Linked DNA regions of Homo sapiens. The protein of the gene in region 1 purifies or fractionates together with the protein of each later gene. This does not show direct contact. Each region holds a gene or a part of one and is shown in the gene's direction. Other genes may lie near its edges.

Region 1 (5,217 bases):
TCCCACTTGGGTTCCCACCCTGCCCGGTTCAGCAGGTGGGCTGGTGGGTGGGTGCCCATGCCAGCTTTTCAGGCTGACAAGTTTGCTTTTCGGCTCCTCCCACTCCTTCACCCTCTGCTCCACGTCCGTCCATTGGTGCTGCTGTCTGCCTCTCTTCTGTCCTCAGGGCTTAGGACTGGGACCTAGAGCACTGTGTCAGGGCTGCTGTCCACCCTCTGGGCCCCCAATCTCCCTGCCTCTCTCTAGCCTCACTCCTGCCCCCTCTCTCAGGACCCCCTAAGCAGCCTGGAGCGCCAGCTGGCCCTGCAGCTGCAGATCACAGAGGCAGCCCGTCGGCTGTGCCTGGAGGAGAACCTCAGCAGGCAGGCTCGGCGGCAGCGGAAGCACTCCATGCTGCAGGAGGAGAAGAAGCTGCAGGAGCTCCAGCGCTGCCTGGTCGAGCGGCGGCGCAATAGCGAGCCACCTCCGGCTGCTGCTCTCCCCCTGGGCCGAGGTGAGCCGGCTGCCCTGAGGGGGGCCATGCTCCTTAAATGAGCTTTTGAGGGATGGTGGGCGCACAGCCCCGTGCCACTGCCTTTGCATTTGGCTCCAGCTGGGTAAAGCTGATTCTTGGGTTCAGCTCCACCCCATCCTGATTCTCTCCAACTCCAGCAAGGCTTCCCCATCCTGTGAGGTCTTCTTCTCCGTCTCCTTAGAAAACACCCTACTCTCTCCTTCCGTATCCTCCTCAAAATACACTACCTTCAAGAGACTTCCTACACAGAGATATTTCTCAGCTGACCCTGAGCTGAATCCAAGGTGTATTCAACTGGGTAGCCCAGGCTGGCCCCGCTGCCCTCCAGGCCCACAGGGTGATGGCATCTCTGGGTCAGGGTAGTGTGAGGCTCCCGTGAGCCCAAGGCTCTGAGTTGATGTGTAGTCCCCTGGCCTGAGTTAGGCAGCAAAGGGTTTGACGATTGCTATGTGTTACTGATCACTGAATTGTTTCAGGGGCCCACAGCTACTTAGGAGATGTTCAGGTTGAAATCCAGCAGGACTGGTGCCACACCCCACAGCCCCTTAAGTATCTACAACCACCCTGGTCAAGGGTGGGATCCTTCCATGTCTGTTCTCTGCCCTCCTTGTGTCTGTAGTTCAATCCCTGAGCTCCTTGGCCCAGAGACTAGTGGCCGTGGGGGCACCTAGTGAGTTGTTGATGCCCAGGTGCTGCCACATCACATCAGTGTGTCCACCACAGGTTAGCTTCCAACAGGTGGTTCTGAGCCCTTAGGTGTGACTGTTTTCCTTTGTCCTGACCCAAGGCCAGCCTGTCAGGTCAGGACTTGCATCTCTCCATTCCAAACCCCACCGCAGCAGGCCCATGACTCAGCTCTGCCCCCCGTCTCTCACATGGGACCCAGACCTCCCTGGCTGCCTCAGAGGGAACCGGGAGGGAATGAGGCCGTGGCCCTGCAAAAAAAAATCCAGAATTGGATTCAGAGGTCTCGGCCTTCATTCACATTCTCAGGCTCCCATCCCTGCATATCGTGTTGGCTTTTTGCCAAGACTACTCCTCAGCCTGGGAGCAGTCATGGGGAAGCTGGAAAGCCCTTGCTAGTCCCTGTGCCCTGCAGCCTATGCCTCAGGCAGGGAGTTATCTCAGCACAGGTCTCAGAAGTCCCTGCTCCTATCCATGGCTTTTAATTTAGGGTAGAAAGTGCATGACCAGACACCACCCAGGTCACCTCCCGCAGCCAAGAGTAGGTGATAAAGGAGGAGGTGCCTCCATGTGACAGTTAACCCAGTAAACTCAGAAGACAGTGGGGCTGACCCAGGGAAAATGGCCAGACCTCTGTCCGGTTCCAGTGGTTCTGGCTTGGCCGCAGAACAACACTCCCAGTCTCTGAGGCTCTAATGGAAGACAAGTTCTACAACCTTACTCCACTCTCAACAGGGATCCCAGGACTTGACAGCAACCTTGAAAGGTAGCTGCTGAATTGGACATGGAAGCCCCTAAGGGCCAACTTGCTCTGTGCCTGCAGGGAGAGGTCAGGGTGGTGAGATATGCCCGTTGGTTGCAGCGCCTCCTGCTCCCCGGTCCAGCCTCACACTGCTCAGCAGCCTCCCCTGCCCACCGGGGCTGCCATTGCTGGGAGCTTCTGCCCATGATGGGTGGCAGGGGAGTGTCACCCTGATGCTGCCATTGTGACCCATAATGCTTCTTGTTGGGAGTCGGGAGCAGGCCAGGACTGGCCTGGGGCTCTGTGGAAGGCAGGAGGATGAGGTTCTGAAACCTTGGAGCCCTCAGTACAGGTGAAGACAGAGCTGTGGAGAGGAGACAACTGGTGTAGTTGCTGACTTTCCCACATCAGGAATCAAGATCCCACTGGCCAACTTCAGGCCCTGGGATCTAAAGTCCTGTTGTGAGAGCACAGAAGGGATCAGTTCTAGACAAGTAATTTCTGTTTTGTGGCTCCTCTGCCCAGCCGAGCCCTCCTAGAAAGGAGGAAGTAAAGCAGAATTATTAGTAGCTGAGGTGTTTTGAATTAAAAAGGGAAGGCCGGACACTGTGGCTCATGCCTGTAATCCCAATACTTTTGGAAGCCAAGGTGGGCGGATCATGAGGTTAGGAGTTCAAGACCAGCCTGGCCAACATAGTGAAACCCCATCTCTACTAAAAATACAAAAATTAGCCAGACATGGTGGTGCATGTCTGTAGTCCCAGCTACTCGGGAGGCTGAGCCAGGAGAATCCCTTGAACCTGGGAGGTGGAGCCCAGGATCAAGGGAGCCGAGATCGTGCCACTGCACTCCAGCCTGGCAACAGAGTGAGACTTTGTCTCAAAAACAAAAAACAAAACAAAACAAAAAAACAGGAGGCCAGGTGCAGTGGCTCACACCTGTAATCCCAGCACTTTGGGAGGCCGAGGCGGGTGGATCACTTGAGGTCGGGAGTTCAAGACCAGTCTGACCAACATGGAGAAACCCCATCTCTACTAAAAATACAAAATTAGCCAGGCATGGTGGCGCATGCCTGTAATCCCAGCTACTCGGGAGGCTAAGGCAGGATAATCACTTGAACCCAGGAGGCGGAGGTTGCGGTGAGCCGAGATTGCACCATTGCACTCCAGCCTGGTGACAAGAGCGAAACTCTGTCTCAAAAAAAAAAAAAAAAAAAAGGGAAAAAAGCAAACAACCCAAAAACCGAAATAAAAAACCACCCTGCCCCCTTGGGCTCCATACAAGGGTAATTTAGTTTGGGAAAGTAACTGCTAGGTGAGAGTCATCAGCCATACTTTGCAGTGGCAGGGAGCAGTCAGGTGTTGAGCTCATTTACTAGAGTGAACCGCATGAGGGCCACCCAGCACCCACCTGTGCAATGTAATAGGCACTCTGGATGCATCTGTTGATCAACAACACCAGCCATTAGCCACATCCTCATAACATTTTTTTTTTTTTTTTGAGACGGAGTCTTGCTCTCTCATCCAGGCTGGAGTGCAGTGGAGCCATCTCAGCTCACTGCAACCTCCACCTACCGGGTTTAAGCGATTCTCCTGCCTCAGCCTCCTGAGTAGCTGGGACTGCAGATGCGTGCTGCCACGCCCAGCTAATTTTTGTATTTTTAGTAGAGATGGGGTTTCACCAAATTGTCCAAGCTAGTCTCGAACTCCTGACCTCAAGGGATCCTCCCGCCTTGGCCTCCCAAGTGGTGGGATTACAGGCGTGAGCCACTGCGCCTGGCCGCTCATAGCATTTCTGAGATGGTGGAAGTGTTCTGTATCTGTGCTGTCCAATACAGTAGCCACTCGCTGCATGTGGCTATGGAGCATTTGAACTGTGCCTAGTGTGACTGAGGAACTGACTTTATTTAGTTTTAATGAAAATAGCCACATGCGGCTAGTGGCAACTGTGTTGGACAGCATAGCCTTGGGGGAAGCTCAGCATTTGTGAGTAAAATCTCCACCGTTACCCCTCTGTCTGGGGTGTCCTGCGATGCTGCTGCGGGGCAGGGGAACGCTGAGCTAGGGCAGGGTTGGGACAGTTGCTGAGATAGTGAGCAGCTCTCAGAAACCTGAATCTTTTTTTTTTTTTTTCCAATCTTTTTAGAGACAGGGTCTTGTTCTGTTGCTCAGGCTGGAGTGCAGTAGTGTGATCATACCTCACTGCAGCCTTGAACTCCTGGGCTCAAGTGATCTTCCTTCCTCAGCCTCTAGTAGCTGGGACTACAGTCATGTGCCACCACACCCAGCAAATTAAAACAAAACAAAACAAAAAAACTATTTTAGAGATGGGATCTTGCTATATTGCCCAGGCTGGTCTCAAACTCCTGGTCTTAAGCAAACCTCCTGCCTCAGCCTCTGGAGTAACTAAGATTATAGGTGTGCCTGGCCCAATGAAAATCTTTATTCCTAAGGTTTTTATAAAAGATCAAAGGCAGGAGACCAGAATTCAGTAAGAGGGGGTCTCTTTAATTGAACCCTAAAGCAAAGGCTACTTGTGAGCCAAGCAAAGCATGGGCTGGCTGGCTACTCAGGAGTCAAGCCCAGCTCCTGGTACCGTATGTCCTAGAAATCTACTGCCTGCTCTGGGTAAAGATTTTTTCATTAAATTGCGGAGCAGGCTGAGCATGTTGGCTCAAGCTTGTAATCCCAGCACTTTGGGAGGCCAAGGCAGGAGGATCTCTTGGGCCCAGGAGTATGAGACCTGCCTGGACCACACAGGGAGACCCTGTCTCTACAAATAACTAAAATAAAAAAATTGGATAGGCATGGTTGTGGACACCTATAGTCCCAGCTACTCAGGAGTCTGAGGTGGGAGATTGATTGAGCTCAGGAGGTCAAGGCTGCAGTGAGCTGTGATCGGGCCACTGCACTCCAGCCTAGGCAACATTGTAACAACCCATCTTTAAAAAGATGGGTTAAACCTTTGTGGAGCAAAGGTTAACAAACTTTTCCATAAAGAGCCAGACAGTACATATTTTAGTCTTTGTAGGCTCTTTGGTCTTTATCACAACTGTTCAACTCTGCTACTTCAGTGCTAAAACAGCCAGACATTACATAAACAAATTCATAGCCGTGTTCCAATAAACATTTATTTACAAAAGCAGCTATTGAACTGGATTTGACCCCTGGGCCATAGTTTGCTAACCTCTGTTGTAAGGGATTTCAAGATGGTTGGAACTTTTTACTTTTTTTGAAACTTCCTGGGCAATGCCCATGCATTTGAGATGCAAGCTCAC
Region 2 (4,125 bases), on another chromosome or scaffold:
ACATATTTTGCAACATTTATTGAGGGCCTTTCCCATATAAGCTCTTGTGTAGGTGTTGGTTAAATGACAGAAATGTTCTGACATTGTGAGCAGTTTGCTTTCATTTAGAAAAATGTTTATATTTTAGGAAATATAAAGTTTTCATAAAGGACCAAATAATGTTATTTTTTCTAAACCATGTGCTATGATGCTGTAATATCTTGATTATTAAATGTTGCTGTAGAGTAAAATGTTTTTATTGCCAGATCTTTGATGTATAAACACTCACTGTATATGTTCTGATTGGTCTCATATGTCTTTGCTGAAACTCTTGGAATAATGGCTCAAAATGGGATGAATATCCAGAGCAGTACAGTCACAACCTTTAACTTCCTCCCTGTTGAAAATGCTGGGGTTTCAACAATCCGTAATTCCGATTTGAAAAGGGCTACAGTTTCCTTCCCTCTCTGGCTTTGGTCATGAGGAGGCCTGGGCTCGGTAGACAGAGGTGAAGAGAACTGGTAAAAGATGCCCTCCTCTAGCTTGCCTGGATGAACGTTTTTAAATGCATAATTGCTAGAACTTAATATTTAAGTGACATGGTATAGTCAAGTTGTTTTTCTTCATTCTGCCATGGTATTCGCCTGAGGTTTATTTATTATTTTTTCATGATCCTAGGTTCACGCAAAGAATCTGCTCCACAAGTTTTGCTTCCAGAAGAAGAGAAAATTATAGTGGAAGAAACTAAAAGTAATGGTCAGACAGTGATAGAAGAAAAGTAAGATGTCTTCCGGTATTCTAAAGCAGATGTTTGACCTCTGCGGTGGGGTAGTAGAGTCCAGACAACTCCCTGAGGGCGGGGGTATGGCTTCAGAAGCTTCACTTTTTTTTTTTTTGAGACGGAGTGTCACTCTTGTCACCCAGGCTGGAGTGCAATGGTGCGATCTCAGCTCACTGCAACCTCCACCTTCCGGGTTCAAGCGGTTCTCCTGCCTCAGCCTCCCGAGTAGCTGGGATTACAGGCCTGTGCCACCACGCCTGGCTAATTTTTGTATTTTTAGTAGAAACGAGTTTTCACCCTGTTGGCCAGGCTGGTCTCAAACTCCTGACCTCAGGTGATCTGCCCGCCTCGGCCTCCCAAAATGCTGGGATTACAGGTGTGAGCCACTGTGCCTGGCCAGAGCTTCACTTTTAAAATGTCTTCATAGGCTGAAGTTGCCCTTGACTAGGCTTGAACCTGCCATGCACAGAGGTTGGCAGTTTTTAGTTGTGAATGTAGACAGTACATGGGTAAGGCAGAGCAGCTCCGTGTCCTCCTCTCAGCATCGTAGTGTCTCCTGGTAAGTTTTCGTGTGTCCTCTCCATGCCTCACCTTGTTCATGTGTGTGTGTTCTGTTTCCTGTTTCAGGAGTCTTGTGGATACCGTATATGCATTAAAGGATGAAGTTCAAGAATTAAGACAGGTACGTCATAATCCATCTTTAAATCTTTTTTTTCTTTTCAAATGGGAGAAAAGAAGAAAATTACATTAAAAATAAGCTGGCTGGGTACGGTGGCTCACACCTATAATCCCAGCACTTTAGAAGGCCGAGGTGGACAGATCACCTGAGGTCAGGAGTTCAAGACCAACCTCACCAACATGGCAAAAACCCATCTCTACTGAAAATACGAAAATTAGCTGGGCATAGCGGCAGGTGCCTGTAACCCAGCTACTTGGGAGGCTGAGGCAGGAGAATTGCTTGAACCTAGGAGGCGGAGGTTGCTGTGAGCCGAGATTGTGCCACTGCACTCCAGTCTGAGCCACAGAGCAAGACTCCGTCTCAAATAAAAATAAAAAGCTGATTGTCCATAAGCAAAAAACTAAAAGGAGGTCATGTCTTTGAGAAGTCCAGCAGATAAAATAATTGGTTGTCTCTAAAGTGACTTGTTTAAACTCTTTTTTTTTTCTTAACAATACTGATTTTGATGTCATAAAACATCGCAAATTCTGTTGGAAGAATAATTTAAAATATCGAAAGTTCTGTCTGGTGACAAATCCTGCGAGGCGCCCCTGAGATTAGCCTCTGCCACTGCATGGTCCTTGGCTCCCGAAGCCAGGTTAGCGAGCCAGAAGTGGCGACTAACCAAGGGTGTTCTGGGTATTGCACGGAATGTGAGTATGAGCAGCTTTGGTCCTCTGCCCAGCTAGGCGAGGGAAGGTTGGGGTGTTCATTGCACGGAATGTGAGTACGAGCGGCTTTGGTCCTCTGCCCAGCTAGGTGAGGGAAGGTTGGGGTGTTCTTTTGGCCGAGGAACAGCCTGAGAAGAGTTGTGGTCTGGGATAGAGAGCTGAGAGCAGGTTGCTGTGTGGAACTGGACATGTGCTGTCATTCTAAGCAGTGTCCGCAGGTCTTCCAGGTACACCTTTGCCTGGCTGGCAGGCTTCCATGTTCACGCTTTGCCCCTACCGGCAGCAGGCATCTGTTTGTGCATGCCTCCTACGTCCGAGACATGCCTGGGTTCAGCTGCACAGAGCAGGTGCTCGCCCACTTGCTCCTGCACCTGTCAGTGGCTGTTACTTCCAGTCCTTTCTGTAACTCTGGAAGGTGGTTATAAATGGACAAAAAGGCTGGATAGGAGCTGTCTCGTCCGCAGTTTCCAGCTATTTTCTTACGGTATGTTCTATAGAGATTCATTCATGGACTTAATAAGAGCCATTAGGACCATTTCCATCCCGGGAACAGCAGCACAGTCAGGAGCACCGCTGCCACCCTGTCCAGGTGTTTGACCTTCGTGGATCCCCACGACCTCAGAGCCCATAGGCAGCTCACGTGGGATTTCATGAATCGAGGCCTTAGCTCCTCAAGGATACACATTTGGGGAAAGGAAGCCCTACGCGATGCCAAAGATAGTGAACACCCTGTGGTCTGCTTAATTTACAGGACAACAAAAAGATGAAGAAATCTCTAGAGGAAGAACAGAGAGCCCGCAAAGACCTGGAGAAGCTGGTGAGGAAAGTCCTGAAGAACATGAATGATCCTGCCTGGGATGAGACCAATCTATAAGGGATGTCCTCAGTTCTTTCTGTTGAAGACCAGTTCTGAGGTGAAGCTGGGCACCCCTGACCCAAGTCGGGGTGCACTCAGGACCACAGGGCAGGGCTGGGTGGGGCGCCACCTTGCTCTCTGTATATAGAAAAGCTGGAGCTTATTCTGCGAATGGAGACGATCAAACCATGACTGATGAATCCAGACAGGAGGGATTGACTCTGAGGACCTGAGCTACATCAATCCACTCTGTGAACATCTCAGTTACCTCATTCTGCAATAAGTTCAGTGACTGACTAAAAGTCTTGTTTTTCCAGACTTTGAATTGAATATATAAATATTATATATACATGTTTCTTGTAAATATCCCATTTTGAATGCATACCTGTGGTGGTTCTGTCCGGGCTAATCCCCATGCTAGAATGTCCTTTCCAGCTACGTGAATAAGAAGTCCCATGCCCGCATCCACCGGAAGCAGAAGCCTGGTGGATGCCTGGTTCGTTCCGCAGCACCAGGGCCTCCACCGTGCTGTGGCAGCACCCCCCATGTCGGTATTTCTAAATAACCTTATTTATACCTGCAGAGATACACTTCAGTCCCATTCAGAAGTCTTCTCTTAAAGCAGCATTACAGTCCCAGACCTGCGGGTTTCTGAGGGCAACTTGCTGGCTGACAGACTCAGTCTTGACCTCAAGGAAGGCCCATACGGCACTGCCGCATCCACCTAGAGGTGTTTGCTCTTGTCCGCTGTCTGAGTACTGTGATTCTCAGATGAGTTTGCTGCGTTTTGGGAGGACACAGACGGTTCTGTATAGGCTAGTTCAGTAACAACAAAATACACTGTTTTGTCTTCCCTCAAAGAGAGATCTTACTAGAACCTGTAAATAGAATGTATTATTTATTATAAGTCACTGCAGCTGATGAAAACAGATGGAGGCCATGCTGCAGGCTGATACTGATGGGTGGAGTTTTGTCATCAGGCCAGCCTCATCCCGAGGTCTCCTCCACCATTGGCCGTAGCCAGCAGGCTTCAGTGCTCACCGAAAGTAAAATCCCCTCCTTCAGCAAGAATAAAGCAATATACACCTTAGGTTCCACTAAGTAACATAGGCATAAGCAG
Region 3 (4,664 bases), on another chromosome or scaffold:
TAAGTGCTCATTCAGTGAGTTCTATTCATGGGGGATTAAGGGCAAAGCTTGTGATGTACTAGGAACATCACTAACTGCAGTCACTGTCATGAGGGCAGTTCTCTTTTTACCTTACAATTTATTCCTTTTGGCGGAACATTTGAAACATTCTGTCAGAGTGGATTGTAACATAACTCAGAATCAGTATCTCGTTATCTACTCTTTTTTTGTTACGTCTTAGGCTATGTTGCTAATTTTTTAAAATTTGCTTCGTCTTACAGACCATTGTGATGAATGACTGTATTATCCGAGGGGATCTGGCAAATGTAAGAGTTGGACGTCATTGTGTTGTGAAAAGTCGTAGTGTCATAAGGCCACCATTCAAGAAGTTCAGCAAAGGGTATGTAATTTAATTACTTTGTTCAAGTCTTGGGCAAGAAGCTGCCACTGGTGGTGTGGTCCATGTGTTGAGTTGTGGTATAATGACTAGGTCTGTCCTGTTTGAAGCACTGAGTAAGAGTTCACCATAATGAACACAACTCTGCTGGTGGTTGTCTCAGTCTGGTTGATGATTGGTTGCTACAAACAGAATCCGCTTACACACTGGCAAAAGCAAAGGATTTCTGATCAAACAGACTGGCGTATATAATGGAACCTAAGAGGAGGAAAAGGAGCAAGCCAGGCCTCACAAGGGACCGGAACCTGGAATTGGACAGCTAGCCGGAATCAAGACTGTTTTGTCTACCTATCCCTCTCTGTATCTGAGACTGTATTTTTTCTTCTATACTGCCCTTCTCTCTGCATTTCTACTTGCCTTTTCTCTCTCACAGATACCTGCCCCATTTGTTCATGGAGCCTACCTTGCTGACTCAGCCTCTAATTTATATCATTTCTCCATTTAGGCTTCCAGCAGACACCAACTAGAGATCTTATGTGTTACTTCCAAACTCTTGAGAGAGAGAATCTGATTGACTCATCTTAAGTATCCCTGATCTGAACGACTTTGACCCAAAGGGCAGAGTCAAGTCAGGTCCACTGATCCTTCAGTGGGAATAAAGACTGTCCAAGAAAGGCCAGGGACAGAGCAGGCAAACTGACCACCATAGCTGATAATGGTGCTAAAGTATTCTCTTTGCCTCTTTGCTTCTCTCCTCCTTGACTAATTGCCCTCCTGGCACCCATCTGCATTTCATCCAATAAGTCAGCAAGCATTTATTGAGCACCTTCCTCATGCCTGCAGCTGGGTTGTAAGCTGAGAATATATAAAGATAGATAAAATAAAATTCCTGCCTCAAGGTTCCCAAAGTCTAGTTGTAGAAGCAATTAGCATAATCAGATAGCGACATATGACAGCTACTATATGATGTGATACACCTGTCACAGAGGTATGACCATGGTTAGGAAGGAACAGAGAAGGGAGCAATTAACTCAAACTAATGATAATACCCAGAAGTATATCATGCAGAAATAATCCCACATTTCCAATAATGATGTTGGATTCCAGGCTTTCCATGACATACAAGAACTGGATCGGAGAATCATTATAAAACATTCACATGATTAGCTTTGAAGGCTACTAGGGGAAAACCAGAAAACCTCCTGGTACCCTATTATGGTTTTATACAGTGTGACTGATACACTACTAGAAATGTTGATTAACAGCATTGTTGGGTTGGATATGGCACAGGAAAAGCACCAAGAGTGAACAAGGGGTTTATTGCTGAATGAAGGGATGTGTAAATAGGAATAGTACATGTGAGAAATGCTGAAAATATGAAAGTGTAAATAGCAAAACATGAATAGAAGCTAAATGTGGATTTTTTTCTACCTGCATGTCATACCAGAACCAGATAATACTATCGAACTTGGAATCTTAAATTTAAAATTAAAGAACTGTCAGTACTGCTACAGACTGTGATGAGATCAGGGAATGCATTGCTGCACAAGAGGTACAGACCAAAAATACTAGTGGTTAAGGAAGATTTAAACAAATTATAGGTTCGTAGAGGACAGGTATCATCTCTGAAAAAATATTCTGGACAGAATAGAACAGAATTGGAATTCTTCTATACTGCCCTTCTCTCTGCATTTCTACTTCCCTTTTCTCTAGTGAGCATCTAGCACTTTATATTCATTCCAGTCCAAATATTTTACATCCCAAGGTATAGAAATTACATATAAATGTGATCACAGAACCACTGTCAGTGACATTTGAGGAACCCTAGAGAACGGGATGGGAATGATGTCAGATATCTGGAGAAAGCCTGCTGACTCCTACTCAAAGTCAATTAAGTTTTTCCTAAATCCATGGACTAGGTAAGGTCTCCTTGTTATATATGCTCATAACTTGATATTGTGTTTCTGTAGCCCTTATCACAGTTGTCACTACTTACTATTTAATCTCATTTCTTCTCTTGATTGCAAGCTGCTCGTGGACAGTGTTCTCTCTCTTTTGTCATTATTATAGCCCTAATTTCTAGCATTGAGTCTGGCACATAGTAGTCACTCACTGAAGTCTGTGAATGAATAAATTTTTAGAATGCTGAATGTGGAAATTATAACTCATGAGCCTACTGTCAATCCCCTGGAACATTATAGGGCAGGTTACTAAAAATGTGATCTGTGAGCATTTTCAAAGGAAGTGGGAATGAACAAACGTTCATTGATTTTTATTTGGTACCTGCTCTTTTAGCTTTGAAGATCTTGCCCCTCCTGCCTTGGTTTTTCCTTTCATATTTCTTTGGTGTACTATTGCAATTTTGAACTAGTAATCATATTCATTTTCTTCAATATTGTATAATTTTTCTAGCCTGAGGTTTCTTTCCTTGCTGGGAACAGTCTTGCTAAGATGATAAAGTTCAAATTATGATCTGTAGTTCTATAAACCTTGACCCAAAGTACATCATCTTGACCTTTCTGTGTTCATCTTCTTTTCCTCTTCTAGTGTTGCATTCTTTCCTTTACATATTGGAGACCATGTCTTTATTGAGGAAGATTGTGTGGTCAACGCAGCACAGATTGGTTCCTATGTTCATGTTGGGAAGAACTGTGTGATTGTGAGTATGATGACTTGGCTGGCAAAGCAGCTTCACTTTCCCTTCAGCTCCCATCCCTCACTTCGGTGGGACCCTGTTTCTGTGACTAAGCAGGGTAGCAGTGGTTTCCAGTCTTCCCAGAGTTGGATTTTTCTTGACAGATATGGAATTTTTTCAGCTGGGTGCGGTGGCTCATGCCTGTAATCCCAGCTTTTTGGGAGGTTGAAGTGGGCAGATCACTTGAGGTCAGGAGTTTGAGACCAGTCTGGCCAACATGGCAAAACCCTGTCTCTACAAAAATACAAAAATTAGCTGGGCATGGTGGCGCATGCCTGTAGTCCCAGCTACTCGGGAGGCTGAGGCAGGAAAATCACTTGAACCCAGGAGGCGGAGGTTGCAATGAGCCAAGATTGCACCACTGCTTTCCAGTCTGGGCAACAAAACGAGACACTGTCTTATAAATAAATAAATAAATAAATAAATAAATAAATAAAAAGATTTGGAATATTTTCTAGACATTAATACGGGCAAGCGTTTATCAAGTCTCCTCTATATGATGTTAAACTCTTTCCTTTGATGATTTCATTTAATCCTTACAACCATTCAGATGTGTTAGGTGTTATCCCTATTTGCAGATGAGAAGACTGAGGACCTTAAATATTAAGGGATTTGGGGCCAGGTGTGGTGACTGTAGCCTATAATCCCAGCACTTTGCGAGGCCAAGGCAGGAGGATCCCTTGAGCCCAGGAGTTCAAGACCAGCCTGGGCAACAAAGCAAGACCCTTTCTCTTAAAAAAAAAAAAAACCCAAAAGTTAAGGGATTTGATAGGGCTAGAAAGCAGTAGACCTGGGATTTAAACCCAGGCAATATGATTATTAGCCATGCTGCTATATGGCCTACTTATTGCCTTACTTCACGGAGCTTACAGTCTAATGGGAGTAAGGAAATCTGAAGGGTGAGTTGAAACTGGGGGAAGACAGGCATTTCAGGAAAGAGATTCACATGCGTAAGGAAGGGTTCAAGTCATCAAAGGGCATTTACATGTAATTCAGGGTGCAAGCGGGCCCCTTGCTCAGCAGAATCTGTAGGACCCTGGTCCATTGGAGCCTAGGAATAGGTTGATTTAACCCAACCAAGGCTTAACAAGGTTGGATTTCCTGTGATTTCTTAGATGATGAGCTTGATTTCAGTTGGGATTTATGAGAACCATGTTTAGGGAAAGTGTTTTCTGCATTTTAGATTTGTACTCCAGACTAGATTCTAGGAAAAGCCAAGACTCTGTTTCTTTAATGACCATTCCCGTTAATATGGAGCCAGCTCTCTGCCCTGGATAAGACTCAGACCCTGAAATATCAAAAAACTTGCAGAAACCAAACAGTTCACATTCCAGGAGCTATGAGGGTACAGCAAAGGTGGACAGAAAGTCTTTGGGACAAGGGGAAAGTTAGTAAAGTTCATCTCTCCCCTCACCCTAATTGCTTGACAAAAGCTAGCCTTCCAGCTGGGGGTTTCTGATATTTTCCTTAGCAAAGTGAAGATATCACCCCAGTAGCCTAGTCATATAACCCTGTCGTTTATCCTCAGAGCGAAATGTCTGAAAGGTTGAATCCAAATTCTATTCCCAGTGCTTAGGAAATTCTAATCCTATT
Region 4 (4,664 bases), on another chromosome or scaffold:
CCTGCCACCCTGGAATCCCCATAAACTAACTTCACAGAGGCTTCCTGGGGCTTCAAGGCCATGCAGGGGTCTGTCTTTGGGTTCAGCCTTTCAGAAAGGATGAGGTCCTTCCACCCAGTTCTGCTCTGGGCCAGCACCTCTCCCCAGAGTCTCCCCTCCTTTTGTGTGACCCTCGGGCAGACCTGAGGCCCCCTCTCCTCATTTCAGGAGGTTCCTGCAGCCTTTCTGCAGGGTTTGCCGAAGGCAGTTTGCCTGTGTCCTTTCCTCTCTGGGATCCTGTGTTCTCTTAGTTTTTGGCATGCTGCTTTCTACCACCTTGTTTTTTATGTTCTTAAGACTAAAAGACACATACTGAAGATTTCCAGTTTTCTTTTTTTTTTTGAAATGGAGTTTCGTTCTTTTTGCCCAGGTTGGAGTGCAATGACGCGATCTCGGTTCACTGCAACCTCTGCCTCCCAGGTTCAAGCGATTCTCTTGCCTCAGCCTCCCAAGTAGGTGGGATTACAGTTAAAGACGCTCGCCACCACACCTGGCTAAGTTTTGTATTTTTAATACAGACGGGGTTTCACCATATTGGTCAGGCTGGTCTTGAACTCCTGACCTCAGGTGATCCACACTCCTCGGCCTCCCAAAGTGCTGGGATTACAGGCGTGAACCACCACACCCGGGCAGATTTCTAGTTTCACCATGAGGTTGGTCTGAATAACCCAGCCCACCTTGACCAGAACAGGAACCTGCACACACCTGTCATTCCACCTGCGCAGGAGGCTACTGTGAGAACCTCTGGAGTCCGGGACCAGCCTGGGCAATGTAGCTTGACCCAAAACAGAAAAAATGGAAGAGAAGTCTATGCTATGTACGTTAACCAAACCCTCTTTCTCCCTTCTCCCCGCCCTCAGCATCCTTCGGAAAGCTCTGGACAAGATCGCGGAAATCAAGTCTCTGTTGGAAGAGAGGCGGATTGGTGAGTGGGAGAGAACATGCTGGGAGGTCCTTTGCTAGGACAAGAGGAGAGGCCCTGCGGGCAGCAGTCACCCTCCTGTGGGGGCCTGTGGCCACCACCTGCTGGCATCCTCCCATGGAGGCTCTGGCAGACTGGCTCTACCACTGAGAAGGGACAGGAGGTCATTCCCAGTGCCCAGAGGCAGGGGTTTCCCAGTTCTCCCTCAGCAGCCAGAGATCATCCCGCCCTGGCCCCTCATCTCCTGCCCCTTCTGGGGCCTGGGCCAGTCGCCCCCTCCTCTGCCATGGCCCATGCCCATCTGTTGCCCTGGCTGGTTTCTGCAGAGCCACACGCTGTGTGTCGTAAAGCCAGCCTTCCAGACCCCCTCAGCCTGCATTAGGCTCTCCTACCTGTCTGCCCTCCCAACAATCCCATGGTGGGCAGAATCTTGGCATGTCAGTGTCCCCACACAGCCATGCTGGTTCTGTGTGAAGTCAAGTGGGGTGTCCAGCTGTGCCTGAGGAGGTTGAAGGTGCACATTTAATTTTTTTTTTGGTTTTTTTAACTTTCTGTTGAATTACAATGTATATTAATAGAAGAAAAGTACACATAAGTGCAGAGTTCAATGAAATAGTCACTAACTGAACACACTTCTGTAACCAGCATTCAGATCAGCAAACACAGCCTGAACAGCACCTTGGAACCCGCTTTCTTTCTTCTGGTTCCTCCCCCTGGATCCCCGCTGTGCTGCCATCTCACCCAACTGTAGTTAAACCCAGCAGCCCCTATAGGTGCTGACACATGGCCGATGGGGTCACAGTCCTGCTGGGCCCTCGGGCTCACTCGGGAACTGGGGGCTCCCAGGTGCTCCTTCAACAGCTCAGTGCAGCATGCTCGGGGGTCAAGGCCGGCACCTATCCCTGGGGCCTCAGGCCTCCCTTCCTTCCCACAGCGGCCAAGATTGCCGGTCTCTACAATGACTCGGAGCCACCCCGGAAGACCATGCGCAGAGGGGTGCTGATGACCCTGCTGCAGCAGTCGGCCATGACCCTGCCCCTGTGGATCGGGAAGCCTGGTGACAAGTGAGGGCAGCAGCTGCGAGGGAGGGGCTGGTGCCCAGGGGCTGGGACTGACCCTTTGTTCCACTCACAGGCCCCCACCCCTCTGTGGGGCCATCCCTGCCTCAGGAGACTACGTGGCCAGACCTGGAGACAAGGTGGCTGCCCGGGTGAAGGCCGTGGATGGGGACGAGCAGTGGATCCTGGCCGAGGTGGTCAGTTACAGCCATGCCACCAACAAGTGAGTGACACCAACCCTGGGGCTGCTCTCTGGTCACCGAACTTGCCTGGGCTACGGGAGAAAAGCTCTGCAGAGGGTGCTCCCCAGAGGCTGGTTGTGCAGGGAGCACCAGGTCCTCCCCCATCCTCACTCCCCAACAGGTACTGCGCCCCTGGCTGCATCCAGCCTTTTCCTCCTTTTGTCTGCAGGTATGAGGTAGATGACATCGATGAAGAAGGCAAAGAGTGAGTGTCCAGGCCAGGGCAGGGCATGGAGCCTGGGGGCAGCCTAACAGCTGAGAAGGAGCATCCCCACCCGGCCACAGGTTGATATAAGCCCCTCTTCCCCCAGGAGACACACCCTGAGCCGGCGCCGTGTCATCCCGCTGCCCCAGTGGAAGGCCAACCCGGAGACGGACCCTGAGGCCTTGTTCCAGAAGGAGCAGCTCGTGCTGGCCCTGTATCCCCAGACTACCTGCTTCTACCGCGCCCTGATCCATGCGCCCCCACAGCGGGTAAAGCAGCCTCCAGGGGAGAGGCCATGGGTGATGTCAGGAACAGGCTGATCAGACAGACGAGGGGTCCTCTCCCCACTCCTTCCCTTTGTCCTCATCTCACAGGCTCCAAGCTGACAGGACCCACCAGCTGCCCTCCCTCTTCCACTCCAGCCCCAAAGGCCACCATCCCTTTGCCAGCCCTGGCAGCCTTGGCAAGCCCCGAGTCAGTGGCTTCCAGCCCCAGGAGAACCAGCTCCGAGATGGGAAGCTCCTGCCCTGAGCCCTGGGCTCCTACCGCCTTGTGCTCTTGGTGACATGGGACACAAGCCACCTGAGGCCAGGATCCCTGCCTGCCACCCTCTGGGTTGCCCTCAGTCCTCTCAACAAAGAGTCCTTGAAAGGCAGCAGACCCTCCAGCTATGACCCCACTAGGAAGGGAGTCAGCACCCCTACTCCTCCCTGCCTATTCCCTGCCTTGGGTCTCCAGCCACTGAGAAAAGAGCTCTGTAGCAGCAGGGACTGGGCCAAGACTTCTTGACCCCAGAGTGAAGGATGTTAGGAGTGGCTGAGAGTCCACGGCCCAGAGCCTCCTGTGGTCTAGGCTGGGGGAAGGGGGTGCCTGTCCTGGCCTGGGGGTCTCTGAGCAGCCCCTCCTGTCTGCCTGCCCCACAGCCCCAGGATGACTACTCGGTCCTGTTTGAAGACACCTCCTATGCAGATGGCTATTCCCCTCCCCTCAATGTGGCTCAGAGATACGTGGTGGCTTGTAAGGAACCCAAGAAAAAGTGATGCCGCCTGGCAGACTCGCCATCCCCCAACGACACAGGGCAGGACAGCAGAGGACGTGCTGGGATTAAACACATTCCCCCTCTACTCGTCTCCTGGGTTTTACTTCTCCAGACCCTCTCCCCTCTCCAAACAGGGCAAGTTGAGGAGCTGGAGCGGGGAGGTGGCCGTATTTGGCCCCAGTGGGCGATCACTCTTTCAGCTCAGGGTTTCTCTTGGCTTGGAATAGAGACTCTGCATTGAACACAAATCATACTTTATTCTGGAGCCTCTTGGTCAGGCTTGATTCGCACACTCCCTCTGCAGTGACTCCAGGAACCCCTCTCACAGCTCAGAGCGGAAGCTGAGGCTGCAGCCTGCCATCTTCTTCGCATAGTCCGCATCGAAGCGCTCATTCTGCGCCACGGTGAAGGTGGTCTTCCAGTCCCCAGCCATGCCTGGGGGAGGAAGGCAGGGAGCAAAGCTGGAGTCTCATCCCAGGGGAGGCCCCGAGTGCCTATGGGGAGGCTCCAGCTGCTGCTCCCACCTGCTCCAAACCCCCGTGCTGGCCGGCACCTACCTTTCCTCATGAAGGGGGAGATGCTGTGGTCCATGAACTCCCGGCGGACGGTGGTGTAGTTGGTCATAGGGTTCTTCTTCATCTCCTTGAACGACGTGTGCTCAACCATGAGGTCCACAGTCTCCTCTGGCAGGGAGCGCCCCACAAACTCCAGGATCTTTTGAATCTCCCTTTTGGGGTTCTGAGCAGCAGAGGGCTCCTCAGTGGAGGCTTGGATTGCTGATTCAGGAAAATAAAAGGGGTCCACTTCTCTAACCTCAGAGGGGAACTGGCCACTTCCACTTCAAAACCCATAGAGCCAGCTCCTCGACCCCTGGGACCCCAGTCCCTGGGGCAAAATGAATTGCTGTCTGCCCTGTGATCCCATCATGAGCTGGGCTTGGCTCCTATGGGTAAGGACTGGGATGGTCTTCTTCCGTGCCTGTGGCCCTGGGTGGCATAACCATTGGCAGGGAGAAGCAATTGGAATAGATAGCTGATCTGTGGCAAGGGGCCGTGGTTCAGGCGTGTAATTCCCAAGACTTTGGGAGGCTGAGGCAGGCGGATCACCTGAGCTCAGGAGATGGAGACCAACCTGGCCAACATGGCACAACACAAAAATT

Evidence for each region.
Region 2: the proteins of INAVA (region 1) and ARHGEF7 purify together in Homo sapiens (co-immunoprecipitation; 3 studies listed by BioGRID and IntAct, with this or other methods). This does not show direct contact.
Region 3: the proteins of INAVA (region 1) and DCTN5 purify together in Homo sapiens (affinity purification with mass spectrometry; 2 studies listed by BioGRID and IntAct, with this or other methods). This does not show direct contact.
Region 4: the proteins of INAVA (region 1) and SGF29 purify together in Homo sapiens (co-immunoprecipitation; 4 studies listed by BioGRID and IntAct, with this or other methods). This does not show direct contact.

Annotation. Positions count from the first base shown.
Region 1 is NC_000001.11:200,900,667-200,905,883, forward strand, and holds part of INAVA (innate immunity activator protein), read left to right. Parts: intron 1-270; coding exon 271-493; intron 494-5,217. UniProt on the Homo sapiens protein: Expressed in peripheral macrophages and intestinal myeloid-derived cells, is required for optimal PRR (pattern recognition receptor)-induced signaling, cytokine secretion, and bacterial clearance.
Region 2 is NC_000013.11:111,300,091-111,304,215, forward strand, and holds part of ARHGEF7 (rho guanine nucleotide exchange factor 7), read left to right. Parts: intron 1-657; coding exon 658-757; intron 758-1,387; coding exon 1,388-1,442; intron 1,443-2,900; coding exon 2,901-3,023; 3' UTR 3,024-4,125. UniProt on the Homo sapiens protein: Acts as a RAC1 guanine nucleotide exchange factor (GEF) and can induce membrane ruffling. Functions in cell migration, attachment and cell spreading. Promotes targeting of RAC1 to focal adhesions. May function as a positive regulator of apoptosis.
Region 3 is NC_000016.10:23,658,247-23,662,910, forward strand, and holds part of DCTN5 (dynactin subunit 5), read left to right. Parts: intron 1-260; coding exon 261-379; intron 380-2,923; coding exon 2,924-3,035; intron 3,036-4,664. UniProt on the Homo sapiens protein: Part of the dynactin complex that activates the molecular motor dynein for ultra-processive transport along microtubules.
Region 4 is NC_000016.10:28,588,201-28,592,864, forward strand, and holds the end of SGF29 (SAGA-associated factor 29), read left to right. Parts: intron 1-899; coding exon 900-964; intron 965-1,895; coding exon 1,896-2,025; intron 2,026-2,095; coding exon 2,096-2,242; intron 2,243-2,430; coding exon 2,431-2,466; exon of another isoform or gene 2,467-2,471; intron 2,472-2,572; coding exon 2,573-2,735; intron 2,736-2,840; coding exon of another isoform or gene 2,841-2,852; exon of another isoform or gene 2,853-3,389; coding exon 3,390-3,506; 3' UTR 3,507-3,590; downstream 3,591-4,664. Other genes in the region: SULT1A2 (sulfotransferase 1A2), read right to left, coding at 3,828-3,940, 4,063-4,243. UniProt on the Homo sapiens protein: Chromatin reader component of some histone acetyltransferase (HAT) SAGA-type complexes like the TFTC-HAT, ATAC or STAGA complexes.